Regions from separate parts of the Homo sapiens genome. Here region 1 is linked to region 2. Evidence: fine-mapped expression QTL. Tissue or cell type: visceral fat. Region 2 holds a variant in brackets; the other region holds the start of a gene. All regions are shown on one strand. Distances are from middle to middle.

Evidence for each region. PIP is the estimated chance that this variant, and not a neighbour inherited with it, causes the effect. A credible set is the group of variants that fine-mapping cannot tell apart.
Region 1: it holds the start of LINC02147, and the variant in region 2 is the best candidate, but not a certain one, in a credible set for the expression of LINC02147 in visceral fat (GTEx, PIP 0.72).

What each region holds. Positions count from the first base shown.
Region 1 is chr5:117,725,289-117,735,459 of GRCh38, forward strand. It overlaps LINC02147 (long intergenic non-protein coding RNA 2147), which reads left to right and starts at 5,073. Exons shown (of 3, transcript NR_104997.1): 1 at 5,073-5,120.
Region 2 is chr5:117,753,479-117,763,649 of GRCh38, forward strand. All of the region lies in intron 1 of LINC02147 (long intergenic non-protein coding RNA 2147), which reads left to right. Among named protein-coding and RNA genes, the nearest start is that of LINC02147, 28 kb to the left of the region's middle. The variant C/A (reference allele first, on the strand shown) is at 5,472.

The DNA of each region.
Region 1 (10,171 bases), 28 kb before region 2:
GTATACATGTGCCATGGTGGTTTGATGCACCCATCAACCAGTCATCTACATTAGGTATTTCTCTTAGTGCTATCCCTCCCCTAGCTCCCCATCCCCCGACAGGCCACAGTGTGTGATGTTCCCCTCTCTGTGTCCATGTGTTCTCACTGCTCAATTCCCACTTATGGGTGAGAACATGTGGTGTTTGGTTTTCTGTTCTTGTGTTAGTTTGCTGAGAATGATGGTTCATCCATGTCCCTGCAAAGGACATGAACTCATCCTTTTTAATGACTGCATAGTATTCCATGGTGTATGTGTGCCACATTTTCTTTAACTAGTCTAACATTGATGGGCATTTGGGTTGGTTCCAAGTCTTTGCTATTGTGAAGAGTGCTGCAATAAACATACGTGTACATGTGTCTTTATAGTAGAATTATTTATAATCCTTTGGGTATATATCCAGTAATGGGATTGCTGGGTCATAAAAATAATGACCAAAAGAGAGCAGAGGTGGCTATGCAAAATCAGACAAAATAGACTATAAATCAGAAAAGTTGGCAAGAACAAAGATATTATATATTAATAAAAGTTTCTGGTCAGAAACACTAAGATCTTGGAGAGAAAGAAAATGCACTTAGGTACATTTTTACCACAGTTTTTCTGCACAGGAAACTTACAAATAAAAACAAAAATAAAGAGATGCTGAAGGAAAAGTAGCAGCTTGAACATATGTTCAAGCCACTGGGCTCGGAGCAAAGAAAACAAAAATAAAACAAGCAAAGTCACTGGGCTCGGAGAAAAGAAAACAAAAATAAAAACCAACAAGGAAGCTACCAAGGAAGATAGCATTTAATGGGGACAAGATCCTGAAGAAAAAAGTTGTATGTGCATGAAGTGATATGTAAGAAACTAAACAAAAATCATATACTAAAACAGCTAAATAGAAAAAAGTTTATAGAATATGAAGAAAAAGTATTTTATACAGCTGTACAATGTATTTGTCTTACTTTAAGTGTTCTTCCAAAAGAGTCAAAGAGTTAAAAATAAGTTTATAAAGTAAAAAAAGTAATAAGGAGCTAAGGTTAATATATTATTGAAAAAAAGAGTTTTTTAAATGAATCTGGTGTAGCCTAAGTGTGCAGTGCTTCTAAAGTCCACAGGAGTGTACATAATGTCCCAGGTCTTCACATTCACTCACTACTCATTCATTGACTCACCCAGAGCAGCTCCTAGTCCTGCAAGCTCTATTCATAATAAGTGAATTATAGATGTACCACTTTTAACCTATTTTAATATTTTTACTTTTCTATGTATAGATACACAAATATTTATTATTGTGTTACAATTTCCTATAGTATTTAGTACAGTAACATAATATACATGTTCATAACCCAAGGAGCAATAGATGACAATATCATATACCCTAGGTGTCTAGTAGGCTGTATCATCTAGATTTGTCTAAGTACACTCTATAATGTTCAGATAACACTGAAATGGCCTAATGAAGCATTCCTCAGAATGTATCCCTGTACTTAAGTGACACAGGACTGTATATGATCAAATGTGTTATATTTTTAATGTATTGAATACCACAGAATCTTTAGCACATTCTACCAGATTAACTCATTTCTGTGCATATGTGAATAAAACTTTTCTTTCCATCTGTGTGTACATGAGGGGTATACTGAATTGGCATGAGGAGTAGTTAAATTACTACAAACCTTTGCAAATAATTACTGAATGAATTGGATTTAAAAAATATTATGCAACTAAAATATATGATAGATACTGAATTATAGTAAATACAATAGAGACTGAATTGGGACTTTATAATACAAAACCAAAAAAATAGTGATTGTGTCATTGTTATTAATTTTATAAAGTTTCATAAGTTTATATTTATAAAACAAATTCATACTAATATAGTATCACTTTTGTTAATTTTATATATACTGTGGTTTCATGTGTTTATTAGCAAAAATCAAGTTGCTTCTATAAAAGTTATAAAACTACTGAAGAAAAACTATAAGAACATTTATGGAAGAGTTTGTACCTGCAGTGCCTAAAGAGTGCTCGATGATGCCTATTTGATGATTAAATGGATAGGCTAACTTACGTGGCTAATAAGCATGTATATATAAGCCTATATTTGATGGTCTTAAATTTCTTGAGGAATAATACTTTTCATATTCCATATATGAAAATAATCGACTTTTAAAAATCCTACACATCTTCTTAGTTATAAAGCCAAATGACCAAATGGTTTCCATAAATGTGTATAAAATATAAGCTCTGTTTCAGCTACCATTGTGGCACAGGTGTGAACCTAACATCTGCTTCAAATTAGGGTGATCTTTTTAAGAGCTGAATTGGAATGCTGCAGAATTCCATTAGAGACTACGTGAAAATGTGGACAGGAATAGCTAAAAACACTACAACTACTGAATCAGCCAAATCCTCCGAAGTTGACATTGCTACATCCTGGAATGTAAAAATAAAAACAAGGATGCAACTGGAAAAATACATTTGAAGGTGCAAAGCATGCACTTGGTTGAACACTTATACCAAGGATGGAGGAAGTAAAATGCAGCTGCACAGAACTGAAAATATTTTCTGGAAAGTAATGCTGACAGGTGATATGCTTTTAAAGAATGGCTTCTTACTAGCCATGCAAAAATATGCAAAAGTTGTTTTCACCCAGCATGTTCTGGGTCTACAAGACATTCTGCAAATGTACTGAGGTCTGTTACCAAAAAAGGAAGACGAACAAAAATAAATATTTTAATATTTCTAATATTTCTCCTGGTAGAAGCCCTGAAGTGATATAAAGTGCCTGCATTATAATGAAAATGAACTTGAGCAAACCTTGCATTTGGATGTGGATTTTTCCTATGGATCAGGATTTTTGAGTACCTGGAAGAGAAAAGGAGCATTATTTGTTATAATACTTTAACAACTATTTCAGTACTGCTTGTTAGACAATTTTTAGGAAGACTACACATAACTTTTTAGGAGATATGTGGAAAAAACAGATGTTGACCAGTATTACTGTGGTACATAGGTGGAATGCAATTGCTCTTTGATACAAAGCTCTACAAAAAAAAAAAAAAAAGGTTTTTTTAAATTATAGATTTTCCTAGTTAACCTGTAACTGTGTTTTTTTTCTTAGAGAGATAAAGTGATGGAAAAGAAGGATGAATAGTCTGCCCAGGACTCATAATGTTGGTATTTCTTTTTTATAGTTAATTCACAAAGGTGGTTATCACTGGTAACTCTTTGTGGAAAATTCTCCATTCTTTTTTCTTTAGAAGTAAAAAGGGACTGTTTCATATTTTATCCAAATTACAACCAAATTGGTGAGGAAAATGTGAGTCAAAGTATTTTCTAAGTCATAAATATTTTTGAATGTTTTTGCTACTAAAGTTTCACTATAACAAATCTCAAAGAAATAAAATATACTAATAGGACATTTATGCTCTTCAAGGAAGTTCTGATGGGAGCATTTAAGTCTGGCCCCAACCTGGGGACTACCTGCTTACTTATTGTCCCCGAGGTTATAGTCATACCCTGAGGTCAGTGGCTTCAATCTTTCTGTAGTTGCTGGTCAGCTGTGGGACAGAACTGAATCCACCTCACATTCTATGTTGGGTACAGCTGAAATTTAGTGAGTTCAGCTGGGCACAAAGCTGAGTAATTTTCAAATAGAATAAAGCAAAGCTGTAATCTATATCTTTTTCTTAAACACCCTCTGTACCTACCCATTAGTAATAAATTTGGCTGGGTGGTTAGAGTTTGGGATGTAGAAGTGACTCTAATATTTAAGAGATGAGTCTGCTAGTTTACTCTTTTTTAAAATAATTTTTGAATTTTGAAACTTAATTTCTAAATAACACTCTCTAAAGAATCTAGATCAAAAATTGTTATTTCATCAGGAGCATTAACTAAATAAACACTGTTAATAATAGCATTGAAAATTATTACACACCTATTGGCTCAAGCTTATGGCTTTTGGTAGAAGAAATAGCAGACCATAATTCAGATTTCATTCATTCATTCCCATCAAGAGGAAAGGGTTTGCCGATCTAAATTTGAGCAGGTTGGTGAAGTATGCATATGTCTTTACAAACTTATTTCATAGTTTCATTTAACAAATCTTCAGGTTCAATTTCACCCTCAATACATGCCTTATAGAGATAGATATCACAATTATTAGATGAATTTATGATTTTAGGGTTTGCATCATACCCATATATTCACAAGTTTATAAATTCTGTTTTTAAAACCATCAGATCTTGTGAGACTTACTATCATGAGAACAGCACAAGAAAGACCTGCCGCCATGATTCAGTTACCTCCCACCGGGTCCCTCCCACAACATGTGGGAATTCAAGATGAGATTTCGGTGGGGACACAGCCAAACTATATCAAGAGTTTAACTGACAACTGCAATCATCCCAGACACCTGACCCCACTTGCCTGTACCTTTCCTCGGAGGTCCAATAAAAATGCCTGAAGCTCAGTGTTCCATTTAGGGTTCCACTTTCTCACCAGGATGTCTGTACAAGAGATGCATAGTCTTACGGGAGAGTAAAGTATATATCTTTAAACAATTTGTTTACTATGATATTCTACTAAGTGCATTTATTATCTTGCTTTCTCTCCTACCAGCAAAGGAAAAAAAATCATCTTAAGTAAATTTTTATAGATGATACTATCCCAAATTCTTCAACAAATGTTTTCCTGTATAATTTTTAAAAGGTTTGTTAAATGATAATGCCTTACTGATAGATTGTTGTATAGAAACTTTACTGGAAGGGATTCAGGAATACTGAAGAATGGAAGAAATCACAGAGAAGTCCAGCTTCTGATTCACCTTTGTGGGTGATATGGTTAGGCTTTCATCTTGAACTGTAATCCCCATGTATCAAGGAAGGAACCTGATGGGAGGTGATTGGATCCTGGGGGTGGTTCCCCTATGCTGTTCTCTTGATAGTGAGTTCTCAGGAGAACTGATGGTTTTAAAAGTGGCTCTTCCTTCTTCACTCTGTCTCTCTCCTGCCACTATTTAAGATGTGACTTGCTTCCCCTTAGCCTTCTGCCATGATTGGAAGTTTCCTGAAGCCTCCCAGCCATGCGGAACTGTGAGTCAATTAAACCTCTTGATGTGGTTTGGCTGTGTCCCCACCGAAATCTCATCTTGAATTCCCACGTGTTGTGGGAGGGACGCGGTGGGAGGGTCTTTCCTATGCTGTTCCTAAGCTCACAAAATCTGATGGCTTTATAAACAGGAGTTTGCCTGCACAAGCTCTTTTTTTCTTTCTGGCCGCTGTCCACGTAAGATGTGACTTGCTCCTCTTTGCCTTCTGCCATGATTGTGAAGCTTCCTAAGCCACGTGGAACTGTGAGTTCTCCATTAAACTTCTTTCCTTTGTAAAGTGCCTAGTCTGGGTTATGTCTTTATCAGCAGCGTGAAAACGGACAAATACACCTCTTTTCTTTATAAATTGCCCAGTCTCAGGTAGTATCTTTGTAGCAGTGTGAGAACAGACTAATACAGTGGGCATGTTCTGCTCCATACAATCTGACACTTGATTATAAAGTAATTGTTCGCTGTACGTTCTTTTATCTCAGAATAACCTGTTTTCTAATTAGTGCTTTATAGAGTGTTATAAAGTGTTATAAAGTGTTACAGAGTGTTACTTTAGCCTTTGCTTGCTGCAAAAGAAAAATTGGGCCAGAAATTGGCTATATATCTATCGGATCTCCCTCCCTCCCTTTCTATCTCCCTTTCTCTCTCTGACGAATCTAATCTGTGAACGATGGCATTTGAAAGCAAAGCAAAATGCAAAATACGCAAAAATAAAAGTTCTCTGGTGTTAGAAGACAGAAGAATCTTTTGAAAATTTAATTAAAAATTAAATTACCAGGCCTCTTCCTTAGAAATTCTGATGTGGTAAGTCTGAGCTGGTATCCAGGAATTTCCACTAAATAAGCTTCCTTGTAATTCCATTGCAGGTGATTCTTCTACTCATGTTAAAAACACTGGCTTAGGGAATCTGTATTAGGGATTATTCTGGTTGGCAGAATTTACCTATTTTCTAGCTATTCTACTGATATTTCCAGAACTGGTGGTCTATGATAAAGCATTTGAAACTTAAGTATTCGATTCTGGCTATTTGAAACTCACATTTTTCCCAGAAGGGCATTATTGTCCTATTATGAACCCAACAGCCATTCCTGCTTTCCTTTTTATTGACTTTTGCTTGACCTACTCAGAAATAACTATTATTTGGGTCCAGCGAGGCCCCAGGCTGTTACATATTTAGCACTTCTTTCTCCAACTCTAAGCCATCCAGCTTGGCTTAGCTATATAAAAAGCTCTTTCTCACAGCGGTGTTTCTGCCTGGTTGTTTATTTAGTGCATATCAGTTCACTGTTGCTTGCTGAATTGTTTCTTTTTGCTTGGCAGAGATGTTAAGTTCCCTGCTCCTATTGCTACATATTATCTGCAGCTTTCAGCCAAAATTATTAAGCAGATTTTGTTTAGTGAAGCTACATTTATTTAAAACAATTTTCTTTACCTGCAATCATTTGACTTTTTCATGATGTTCCTGCCTGATTTGCTTGAGATTTTTAATGATAATTCACCAAATAGTATACGGGAAGGTGGTTTATAAAATCATGTAGGTATTTGAATGGTTCAAAGGATTTTACTGTTCCTTCCACCCCAACATGTACCTCTTTTCATTGTAATTTGCTTGTGTGTGTGTGTGTGTGTGTGCGTGTGTGTTTTCATCCCTTCTCAGTTCTTGAAAAAGAAGTTGTGCCACATAATTAGTGGCCATTTAAGTCAGAGGTAATTTTTGGTTTACAGTAGCCATATGTCCTGATGGCACAGTTATTTCAAATACATTATTCAATTTTCTTCATGAATGTATTCATAGTTAATATGAGCGAGTCCTGAATTACGGGTGAGGGTTTATTTTCACCATTGCTCAATTTCAACAATTTGTGTTAATTCTACCTTCTAAACATCTCATGTATTCTCTCCTTTCCGTCCCAGTTGTCACTGCCTTAGTAAGCTGTCACTGTATTCTGCGGTGGACCATTAGGGGCCTGAACCTGAACTTCTATTTGCCCTCTGGATTACTCTGTTTAAATTCTTCCACTACACTTGAGTGATCCTGGACAATCTGCCTTCTCATGCCTCTGTGTCAGTGGTCCCCAACCTTTTTGGCACCAGTGACTGGGTTTGTAGAAGACAATTTTTCCATAGACTGGGGTGGGGGGAAATTGTTTCAGGATGATTCAAGTGCATTACATTTGTTGAGCACTTTATTTCTATTACATTGTAATATATAGTGAAATAATTATGCAATTCACCGTGAAGTAGAATCAGTGGGAGCCCTGAACTTGTTTTCCTGCAATCAGATGGTCACATCCGGGGGTGATGGGAGATAGTGACAGATCATCAGGCACTAGATTCTCATAAGGAGCTCGCAACCTAGCTCCCTCACATGTGCACTTCAAATAGGGTTTGTATTTGCTCTTAATAGAATCCAGTGCTGCTGCTGATCTGACAGGAGTTAGAGCTCAGGAGGTAATGCCAGTGATGGAGAGTGGCTGTAAATATAGATGAAGCTTTGTCCACTTGCTAGCCGCTCACCTCCTGATGTGAAGCCCAGTTCTCAACAGGCCTCAGACTGATACCCGTCTGTGGCCCAGGGGTTGGAGCCCCTACTGTATGTGTTTGCCTGTGACCTTCCCTGGCCTGAAGTTCACAGCCCAGCTGACCCACTGGCAATTCCTAAGCATTATTTAAGAAAGTTAGTGTAAAACTCTTCTCAGTAGCTTCAAAACTCCTCTCTGTCTCAAGTGGGCCACTTGAGTCCTTGTTCTCATCTATCTCCTGTGTCCTCTTTTGTTGCAGAAGTTGTGACGTGTCATGGAAAATATTGTTTTCTTCATCTGTTTCTTTGGAAAATTGATGTCATTTTGCTCATTAAAAATCTTTTGCCTAGCCAAGTATCTTGCAGGAAATAGATGTTGATTTAAGAAATAAGTATTTACATGTGATAAAGAAGAAAGAATATAATAAATTGACGTTTGTGTTCATTGGCCTCCATTATTTTTAATGTAAGCCCTATTTCACTTGCCAAATTTTTGAGTCTGCAGGAAAGTTATTTCCCTGTCTGTTATAAAGATTTTATGTTTTTATGTCCTTGTTGAAGAGTTGAGCTCCAATTTTTTTTTAAGAGACAGAGATTGTCGGGTGTAGTGGCTCACGCCTGTAATCCCAGCCCTTTGGGAGGCTGAGGCAGGCAGATCACCAGGTCAGGAGATGGAGATCATACTGCCCAACATGGTGAAAACCTGTCTCTATTCAAATACAAAAAATTAGCTGGGCATGGTGGCACATGTCTGTAGTCCCAGCTACTCTCAGGAGACTAAGGCAGGGGAATTGCTTGAATCTGGGAGGGGGAGGTTGCACTGAGCCAAGATCATGCCACTGCACTCTAGCCTGGCGACAGAGTAAGACTCCATCTCAAAAAAAAAAAAAAAAAAAAAAAAAAAAAGAGAGAGACAGGGTCTCACTGCATCATCCAGTCTGTAGTGCAGTGGTGTGATCATAGTTCACTTTAACCTCAAATTTCTGGGCTCAAGCAATCCTCCCACCTCAGCCTCTCAAATAGCTAAGACTACAGGTGTGCACTACCACACCTGACTAATATTCTCTGTTGACCTCTGTTGTTGTTGCTTCAGGTGGCAGTTTAAATATAATCTAAGAAATGAAACTTGACCTCAACTCACTACAAACCTCACCTACATGACGGTTATACCCATGGGAGAACGTCACGTATATGTTTATCTCTGTTCCCATGTGAAAATGACAGTTTTGAGTCTCTTTAATCTAGTTTTTATCCTGGTAATTCCCAGAATATCAGGACATTGTTTAATTTTTATATTCCTACTACAAGATAACACATTGTTCTGTCTAGATCTTTTCCTGCCTGTTCCCTCCAAAGCTACTCTCCGTGCTGCCAAACTCAAGGGTTTAGTTCAGATCTCAGCTGAAACTTCAAGAAAGGTTTTCATGATTGTCTAAGGCAAAGTCCAGTGATTGTCACTTACCTCCCTAAGCCCTGCTTTCACTCCTATGAGAGCATTTATTACTTTGCAATATGACAACATATTCACATCTCTGTAGTTAAATGTTAAACTATTAAATTGCAAACAGAGATTATCTCCTTCACTGTTAAACCCATGTACTTAAAGAGGTGTCTGTATAATAAATATTTATTACATAAATACAACTTTTTGTGTTAGAACTGACATTACCGTTGATCCTTGAATAACATGAGTTTGTACTGTGTTTGTACACTTTTACCTTGATATTTTGCAATAAACATATTGAAAAATTATTTGGAAATTTGTGAAAATTTGAAAAAAACTCACAGATGAATCCTGTAGCCTAGAGATTCAAAAAAAAAAAAAAAAAAACAAAGGAAAACTTAGTTGTGCTGTCAATTCATAAAATAGATGTAGATACTAGTTTATTTTAGCATTTACTATCATAAAAATACACAAGTCTATTATGAAAATTTAAAATTTATCAAAACTTATACAAACACCTACAGACATGGTGCTATTTGCAGTTGAGAGAAATGTAAAGAAATATAAAGATGCGGTATTAAATCATGACTGAGTGCAATTTACTGCAGTACACACCATACTACTGTAATAATTTCATAGCTATCTCCTGTTGCTATTGTGGTGATCTCAAGTATTGCAAGGATCTGCTTACATGCCATGTGACAATAATTATCTCTTTTTGTGCAGTTCTTCTCTCCAGTTAATTGTGTGTCTCAGTAAAATTGATCTCTCCAAGTTCTTGCATATTTTTCATTGTGTTTACTGTAATACTTTAAATAACACCATGGGACCCACATAAAGTGTCACTAGTGTTTCTGGGAGTGCTCCCAAGAAGCAGAGAAAAGTCGTGACATTACAATAAAAAGTTCAATTACTTGATATGTATCATAGATTGAGGTTTGCAGCTGCAGTGGCCACCATTTCAAACAGATTATTTATCTTGTAAACAGATGACATAAACTTACAGCATCAATGAATAAAGTGTAGTTCTGTACATTTATTTTTCTTCCTTATGATTTTCTAACATGTTCTTTATTGT
Region 2 (10,171 bases):
GTACCTAAAATGTACTATTTTATCCCTCACCCGCCTATCAATCTCTACCCCCAAATCCCCAAAGTCCACTATATCATTCTTATGCTTTTGTGTCCTCATAGCTTAGCTCCCACTTATAAGTGAGAACATATACTATTTAGTTTTCCATTTCTCAGTTAGGAATTCAATCCACTTAGTTCTGAGTTCACTTAGAATAATGGACTCTAGCTCCATCTAAGTTGCTGCAAAAGACATTATTTCATTCCTTTTTATGGCTGAGTAGTATAATTAAATAGTCAAAAACCAATAGATGTTGGCAGGGATGTTGGGAAAAGGGAACACTTCTGCACTGCTAGTGGGAATGTAAACTAGCACAACCACTATGGAAAACAGTATGTAGAATCCTTAAAGAACTAAAAGTAGAACTACCATTGAATCCAGCAATCTCATTACTGGGTATCCACCCAAAGGAAAAGAAGTCCTTACATGAAAAAGACATGCACACGCATGTTTATAGCAGTGCGATTCATAATTGCAAAGATATGGAACCAACCTAGGTGCCCATCAACCAATGAGTGGATAAAGAAACTGTAGTATATGTAAACCGAGAAGCTTCATTGCTAACAAGCTCCCCTTTGATGCTGATGCTTCCAGACTGTGAGCCACACTTTCAGTAGCAAAGCTTTGGAGCACTTTCTACTATGGAGTCACGTTTTGTATCCTAGCCCTTGCCCAAATGTGAACCTGGATAAATTACACTGTACTTCAGTTTTTGAATCTGTGAAATGGAATAACAATGAACTTACCTAATAGGGTTGTTGTGAAGTTTACATGAGTAAATATACAAAAAGCTCTTATAATAGTCCGTTATAATTAGTAGACATTTCTGAAGCTATCATTTTATTTTTTTATTTCTTCCCAGTTGAGCAATAATGTGTTGTGATAAAGATATAGAAACCATCATTAGAGAATTTAATTTGTTTAAATCTAGACTTTAGAAATAATCTAAGGAAAATCCTATATTTTACAGTCTAAGTGTTCAGATTAGCTAAATACAGAGAAATGCGGTTTGTTAATCTCCTGGTATACATTCTGCTTCCTTTTGCCACCCTCACCATTGTCCACTATAAATGATTTTTTTTTAACTACAAATATCTCAAACGCTTTTGAGAAATCGACAATTTAAACTACCATGTGGAGGTAAAAAAATGAACAAACAAAAAACTGAAAGGCAAATCATACACATTGTTACCTAGAAACCCCAGATTTTCCTTCAAGATGGTGCAATAGCAGTGACTTGCTGTGCTAGCCTCTGTATCTTTGTCCTTAGCATTTGTTTCAGTAGTGATACATCTGTAACCTCAAAGGTATAAGTGATGCCCCTTCCACTGAATTATTTTTGAGTAAGATGGAGAGGTGAAAAAAATATAGGATGGGCTTCAACTTCAACTGCAGCCCATGCATTGATGATCTTTGCTGACAAGAATGTTGAACATAATGAAGGATGCATGACAAGATAGAAAAGTGGGTCATAAAAAACGGAACGCCTTTGCTGCCAGGATGCCGCTCTGGTTTCTGGGTTAATCATGCACTGCTGGAAAAAGCATTTGTGTTCACATGCCCGAATGAATCTAAAGACCATAATGAACAAAATCTTGTTTTTTTTCTTACCCCTCTATAATGGACACTGGTATTTGCTTTTCTGAGGAGGTAATTGTAGCTATCTTTCTCTCCCAGGTTTTTTTCTTTTTTATAGCCTAGATAACTGGATAATGCTTTAACAGCTATTAAATAATTACTATATTTGGCATTGAGGTAGCCATAGAAATAGATAAAGCAAAGTTAAGCTTCCAAGGAACTCATAACTTAGAACAGCGTATAATGCTTCTCACACATATCATCCAATGTGTGAGGTAAATGTATGAGATAAACATTATAAATGAAGTATTGCGGGTATTAGGAGAAGGGAAAAATTATCAGTGGACTTTCCTTGAAGGAATTAACAGTTAATCTTTGCCAGGAAAATTAAAGAGAATTTTAATATGAAAGGAGGAAGGGGCTTATCAGATGGGATTATAAATAAATCCTAGGCAAGCTCTGGTAACAGCAGCATTTAAATCTGGCCTCCACATAAGTTGTGTATTTGACAGTGATGGAATAAGAGAGTACTTGAGGGTCAGATCATAAGAGACTTTACTTGTGCTAAAGAATATGGACCATTTTTCTTCTAATGGAAATGGGGAGACCTGAAGATTTTTACATAGAAAATTATCATGTCTAAATTGTGGTTTCTGAGCATGCCATAATCAGCTGGTGGATATGGAACAAGGACTAGTGAAAATACAAGGAGTCAAGTCAGGATAATCTGGGGCTGTAGGCCTCTTCCTACTGAATGATGTGCCAAAAGGCCGAGATTAAATAACCCTTAGTTACTACATAAATTGACTTTCCATGTAACTTCAATGTTACATCTATTAAGCTCTATAATAAAAATCAATTTTCCACTCTTATCAAGACAAAGGAGTAAATATGGAAGCCATGGAAGCTGTGGCATGAGCACCATCTGAAGACGGTTATGCTGCCTTCTAAATCCAGGATCGTGACTCTTGGTCAAATCTAAAGAATAAAGATTACTGACTTTGACACAACGTGTTGTGTTTCTAATGGTAATAATGAGAACAGAAATTATTATAATTAATCCAAATTAATGAGAACCAGAAGGAAAATTGAAAATAAATGAAAAGTGAAAAGATTGTAAGAGTTAAGGAACAAACTAGTGCATTAAAAGTTTACTTTTATTTTGTTTGTATCTTGTACCTAATAGTAATCTAAATTATAGAAAACACTTTTGTTTTGTTTTCCACCAGAAAATGTCTGTTATAAATTTTGGAATAGAGAAACTAGTGGTGAAAAATTTATGTATTGTCAAAAACCATTCTAGGGTTCTTTTGTGATTACTCCTCAAAACAACCCTATTTCATAGTTGTTATTAACTTGCCATTTACAGATGAGGAAACAGTCCCAGAAAGATTAAATGATTTTCCCACATTAATTTTTCTATAAAATACCACAACCAAAGTTAGAGCCAAGATCTATTGGATCTAAAGCTCACACTGAAATTGTTCACTAATGTTGCATAAAGTCTACTAATGTATTTTACGGAAGAATCACAAAGCATGATTATTTCAACCAGTGAATCTGAAGTGATAATACTTAAGTTTATGTTTGGGCTCTGCTCCTTAACCAATTTGGCGTAGTCATACAAGAATTATTAATTATTTTTAGACTTTATTGTAAAATGGTGGTTGTTACCTGCTTTATGGTTGTTGCTGGAGTAATAGAAAAGCTCAATGTGAACTCACAGTCTTGAACACTATATAAATCATGCTGAATATTTTATTAATATTAATACCAAAGTTTAACATTTTATTTAGCACTAAAATGATGGTGGTAATAATATTTGGGCTTTGTGAAGCTCATACTTTTGATTTTAATATGTTCTGTTGGTTCTTGTGTTTAAATGAACCTTGTTATTTCCATTTGTCTAAATACACATAATGTCAGTTTAGAAGCAGAAAATCAACTCTAATTGGTATGTAAGAAGTAATTTGGGATAATGGTAGACACTCGATTTTGAAGTCCCACAGATCTGGTTTTATTTTTTAAATCAGACACCCTGGATGTATGTATTTAAGCAAATCACTTAACTTGAAATATTTCCATATTTACCAAATGAGAGATTAAAATATGTAAAGTTACTATGAGTATATGAGATAATATACATAAAGTCCCTGATACACAGTGAGTGCCTAGTGAAAGGCAGATTCTATTGTAGTTATTAAAGCTAATTTCCCATTAATTCCCTTGGGTAGATGACTTCACAATATCATGAGGGAGAAGACAACATTGGCAAAAAGAAATTTCATTTTTCTTCTGAAAGTTTAATAATAATAACAAACAAATAGGTCACCAGGGCTAAAAATCAGAAGGTTGACACTCTCAGACATTTCTTTGACCCTTAATATTCTATCAGGCCTGAAGAACATGAAATAATGTACTGGCAAGGAAATTGGCAGCGGGCTCCTGTGATTAAGGTCCACATTACAAAACAACTTATATTTAGGTACACAGATAAGATTTTTTGTGATCATTATATGTTAAACTCATATATATTTAGAAAGTTTTTATATTAATTTGTCATGGACAATAGGATTCATACTCTAAAAATAATGTAAAAGGAAATTGTTAATAATAGTATACCAAAAGATATCTTTCTTTGATGATTGCTCTGTAGGTTCTTAAGAGTGATAAAATGAATAGTCTTTGAGGTCAGATTACTTAGTTTTATTTTTGCTTTTCTCTAGTAGCTGTATGGCATTAGATAATTTGACTTTAAATTTTAGCTTCCTCATCTGGTAAGAAATAAAAAAGGGCAAACAGTTGCCTCTTAAGTTTGTAAAAATTAATATAATCATGTATGCAAAATACATAATATGATGCCCAACACTTTGTGTTAAGCACTCCAAAATGTAGTGATTCTTGCCAGTGGCAAGTTACCAACCATCACTGTGGAGCTCGTTGTCCTGTAGAAAGCAGTGGGCTGAATCTGACCTCATTTGAATGTTCCTTTGTGTAGGATATATAAATATTGGTTTATTTGCCTGCTGTTTTCTAAATTCTTTCTTTGCAAAATAGGTGAGAATTTATTCATTTGAGAATTCTGAGATTTATATCATCTCAGAATTTATTCGAAATTTCTGGTTCTTTGCTTACAGAGCAGTGGCCATTTCTATTTCTGTCCACCAATGTCTCAGCTTGTTTCCAGTACCAAATTTAAAATATGGAACTAATTGAAGCCAGTTTAAAAAGGCAAAATCAACTTAGCTTTTGAGACAAACCCATAATTTTTCACCACTGTTTTCTCTGCCTGCCAAAATAAGCACTTTCTTAGGCAAATCTTATTTTCCTTTGAAAAATCCATAGGTGTAAATTTGCAAGCCGCTTTCAAACTTTTGCCTCATTAAGCCTAATGCTTTTTGGAATCACAGTAAACTATTTGCTTCAATAATTTATTTTGGGAACTAGTTACAGGCACTAATTCAGCTTTATGCAGAGAAGTATTTCTTTCTACCCATTCTTTATTTCTTGCTTTTTAATGTTATTATATGTTCTTCATGTGAAACACCAAACTTTTATTCTCCATACCACTGATTGATCTTGTAACAAAACAAGTGTGTGGTTGAAGGGACATACGCATACATAGATAGTATTTTGTAATGTTGATGTCCTATCAGAATATTAAGGAAACATGAAAATACCATAGTCTACGCAGTGTATTCATAAATTGGAAATCAGAGTTTGATTTGTAAGTTTATTTTGAATATGAAATAGAATTTTCATGACAATAATTTAAGAAACAGTGATTAGAATACAGTCATTTAAATTCAGCACATACCTATGAAGCACATACTATGTGTAATGCTCTGTGTCCT[C/A]TTTACTACTGGGGACACACTATCTGACTTCATGAACTGAACTTCATGTACCTATAAATAGTGATACTAATAACTAGCATTTTCTGAGAAGTTATGCTAAATATTATATGTTCAACATACATTATCTCATTTATCCCTCCCAGTGAAGAGGATACAGTTGTTACACTCATTTCATAAATTAGGAGCCAAGACTTATAGATATTTAGTGTCTTGCCTGAAGTCAGAAAACCAGAAAGAATCCTTATTTGAAACCAAGCCTGCCAGACCTTGAAATTCATGTTATTACTCAGTAGAGGTAAAGCCTATTTAAATGTCTTATGTTCTCACCTTTAAGTACCACTATTAGCTAGATGGATATTTGCAGGCTAAGTTGAGTGTTTAATTGTCATTTACAATATTGCATTCTTCAATAGTGTCCCACAGATTGTTGATATTATATCTGCCTCACGCTTCAAAAAGTTAGCAGGGGATCCTTCCAACTTCAGGTCCAAAATTGAGCCCTGTTGGCCTCACTACCAGCAGTGGTGGCAAAAGAAGGCATGCCAGGTGAAGGGAGTAGAAAGGTGTTAAGGTCTCACCCAAGGTTAATGCCTTTGGCCTGAGGGAAGTTTGCCCTCAGATATAAATTAATGAACAGAGTTTGGGCCCCCAGACATGGATTGGTTCACCCTCTTACTCTACGTGTACGTTCTTACGTTGATATTTTAAGAAAGAAATTGTCAATGGGAAGGAATTTTAGGGAAGAAACAGGTAAATAATGAAAGAAGAAAATAGAAATTTTAAAAGAATATAGTAGAAATCTCTTAAAAAAACAGCAAACTTTTTTTTTTAATCCTCTAAAAGTAGATGGATTTGTGTTATTTAGTAAGAAGACATTTTCACTGTAAGTGAAAATCTCAGGACTTTCTAATCTTAGATTCAAAGTGTTTAAAGATATTGATGGGATAGAGTTTAAGAGATTATATTATTATTCACACATATGTGATTGTGTGGTAAATGGGCTACTGGGGGAGAGGAGGGCTTTACATCTCCTTGCTGGAATATTCATGGCTTGCGTAGGCTGGAAGAGTTGATGATGCCTGCATGCATTTTCATAGGGTGGAACAAATCTGAATGTTTTCCTGTTGGGGGGGTGGTTCATGGGCTAATCTGTGAAAACTTTTATTTATCTCTGTATTATACAAACCCGTGATTCTGTCATTAGAATTGTCTGAATAATTACCAAGCATAAAAGCTGCATCATGATTAAAACATGAAATACAGAGGATGTTTATCAGAAAATTTTCCAGATCTCTTTGAACTTTTACTTTCATGAGAGTAGATGTTTTTTGAGATTACCTCATGGGGAAGGCGTAACTGCCTAATCATAATAAAAGTCTTCCTTCCTATGTTTATAAAACTGACAGATGTGGTTTCCAGAAAGTCAGATAATTTAGAAGTCGAGAAAAAGACAAAACTAAATGGTAAGTTTGTAAAATATCTTAAATGATTCCAAATTCATTTTTCCTTTAGATCAATGTCTAAGTTTGGAGTAGTTGTAGACATTTTTCAATAAAATGATTTGTGTTAATCTAATACAATTTATCTGAAGGAAAAGGTCAAGAAATAAGAACATTTTTAAAATAAGGTATCTGGTGAAAGTAAATACTGAAAACTCTGAGACTACATGTTAGATTTGTCTCTTGAAAATTGTTTCAGATAGCTTAAAACTCATGAGATTATAATGCTGAATCTTTTAGATTATTCTTGCACGCGTATTTTTTACAAGTGAGGAATTTCAAACAAGAGAAATTATGACTCCGATGATAGAATTTGGCAAAACTTTTACTATAAGCCAGTCTTTTCAAATCTGTTTGTTGTTCTTTCTATGAAATCTTTTTTGACTCTCTGATTATTCGATATAATTGTCCTTAAAATAAAAAAAAAAACCGTCTGGTTTTACTCTTCATTTACAAGAGATATCAATAGTGAAAATTTAAAGTAAATGATTTGTTTTTTTAAATTTATTAATAAACTGATGATGTAGCTATGCAATTCTATGCTTATTTTTAATATATTTGAGGACACAGAGTTTTACTAGATGACAAAAAAGGCTAGTCTAGTGTGGATGGGTCTGCCTATATACTCTATTTCTATTTTATTCATTGTGCAGCACTGATGAAAAAGAGAAGGTCTAATTTTCTGGGTTCCAGTGACCCTCTGATGAACACCGGGTGCTGGAGGTTTCTTCTAAAAGATAGCAAGTTTAAAATCTGAACTGGTGAAAAGTAATTCATAATAATGCTTACTTAATCGGGAAATAAAAAGAGGGACTAGAGTATCTAAATGCAGATGAAAGACCTTAGCTCTGCTCTGTATTTCTGTGGGTTAACCTCACAGTGGTTAAGAGAGTGGTTTAGAAACAACCAATTTGCTGAGCAATCCTGCTGACCAGTTCTCAACGGAAGACCTGGGGGAGTACTCTGTTGCTCTCCAGAGCTCTCTCTGTAAGGCCCTCTCCTCTCTTGTACTCTGCCCTGACATTGCTAGCTGCCTTGGCCTCCTTGACATTTCATTCAGCTCCTGTCTTTCTCTCTAAATCTAGGCTAGCATTGGGTATAGAAAGATGATCAGAGACTGGGAAGAGCTCATGTATTGGTTAAGAGAAATCTGATGCAGTAATGTGGTCAGGCATATATTTGTAATATTTTATAGAGTAAAAACTCAATGCTGTTATATTTTATTGTTACAACATAAGCAAATCAAACTGTCCAACTCTCTACCTTTCTCCTGTTGCTTATTAGAGTTGTTAAGTTTAGAAAGTAATGGATAGGTTGAGCTTCACATTTTTTTGTCTCCTATAAACTCCCACCGCAGTAATATAGTTTTTATTGATTACATACACACATATTTTTCCTACTTTTCACACTAGTTAATTATTGTGCAGACCACAAAGGTGAGAGTTCTAGTGAAACATGCGCTATCTCTTTCCTTGGATTTATGTAAACAAATACAAACATGAAAGTAAATTTGACACAGCTTCTGCTTCTCCCCTGCAGTGGCTTTGTGTGTTTTCATGCCAATTGTCAACATCCATTTTTCTTATCGCAACACTTTTCCTCTCCTTAATTCAGTTTTTATGTAGAAATTTGCCCAAGAAATAACCTAGTTAACCTCAACTTCTGTTTCAGCATACTTTGACATTTGTTGGCTAGAAAATTCTTTTTTTTTTTTTTTTTTTTTTGGCTTTTTCAGCAGTAAGAGGTGTGTCTGCATTTAGAAAAATATGTTCAATTATATAACTTATTTTGAAATTAACCATTGAAAAATTCACAGGGAGGCAATAATGATTTAGATGGTTTTGATTCATATATTTATTTCTCATTCAAAAAATAACTGGAACCTTCATAGTAAGAGGGGGGCATGATGCTTGAGAACACTACCTCTGTTTCTCTAAATCTACAAAATAAACCCAAATAAATAAAAATGAGAATAGATAAAAGAGAATGCAATAAGTCCTATCTTTTAAAAAGTCATAGGCAAAGGAAGAGAAAAAAGGAACCTTTAAAATAACATAGCGATTTCATCAGCTTTCAATTTCCTCTGTATGCCAAATATATTGATATGTTAAGAAAAAAAGTTTAAGAGACAATATCATAAAAAAACCCCTCCATTACCACCCCGCTCAAAATAATAGAATGAGCCCAGAGGCAGAGTTCTTAACATGAATCTCAGGAAGTCTTTGCTTGGCCCATAAAGTGCTAGGTGGCCTGACCTCTAGACACATCTCTGTTTCTCTCGTATCTCATCCCCTTAATTCACCCGGGTCTGTTTTCTTTGTCCTTAATTTCCTGAACATGCGCAAACCCTAGAGTCTCTTCTGAAGCTTGGTCATGTGACTGAAACGTTTTTATACAGCCTTCACATGATTAGCTTGTTTTATTATTGTTTAGATCACTCTAAAAGTGATTGCTATGCAAACCTTCATGATATGAATGAATAGCAGCATTCATTTTAATTACAAAATCAGATAGGGCTTGCCCTCTTTAGAGTTAGTGATGGGTTAGGCACTAACTAGGAGTACTTCTAGCTTGGGGATGTGCAGGTATGTTTCTGTTTCTTAATGGGAGTGTGAGTAATGTTTCCTTCCTAGATCTAGACATTGGTTTTTGAAGGTGCTTAGTTTGTGAAATGTATTAGGCAATAAAATTATATTCTGTATACTTTTCTGTATATACTTCAACAAAAGGTAGCAAAATACACACAGTTACAAATCTTATCTCATGTTATCAGACACTGTATAACCACAAGCAAGTGGTACTTAAACATGTTTATTTGGATTTTGTTTCGTTTTGTTTTTTCTGATCCCATTACTTTGTGTTTAGCCTCACATAATATCTCCATCCACTTCTGGAATTTTAAATGCTAAGAACTGAAGGCCATCTTCTAATTCTTTGGACTTAGACCAGGCCAAGTCTTGGACATGAAATGTTTCATTCTTTCACCAAATAATTCTCACTCACGCCAACCCCACTAAAATAAATAGCTACAAGTTTTCATCTTCATTTCCTCATCCGCAAATTTCACTCACATAGTCTTTCATTGGCAAGTAGTCATTTTTTTGCCTTGTGAGTTTATTTTGCTAAGTGTTGTTTGTATTTATTAAGTATTCTTAACATGATATTGTAACTTTCACTTACAATATGGAATATATTCATTAG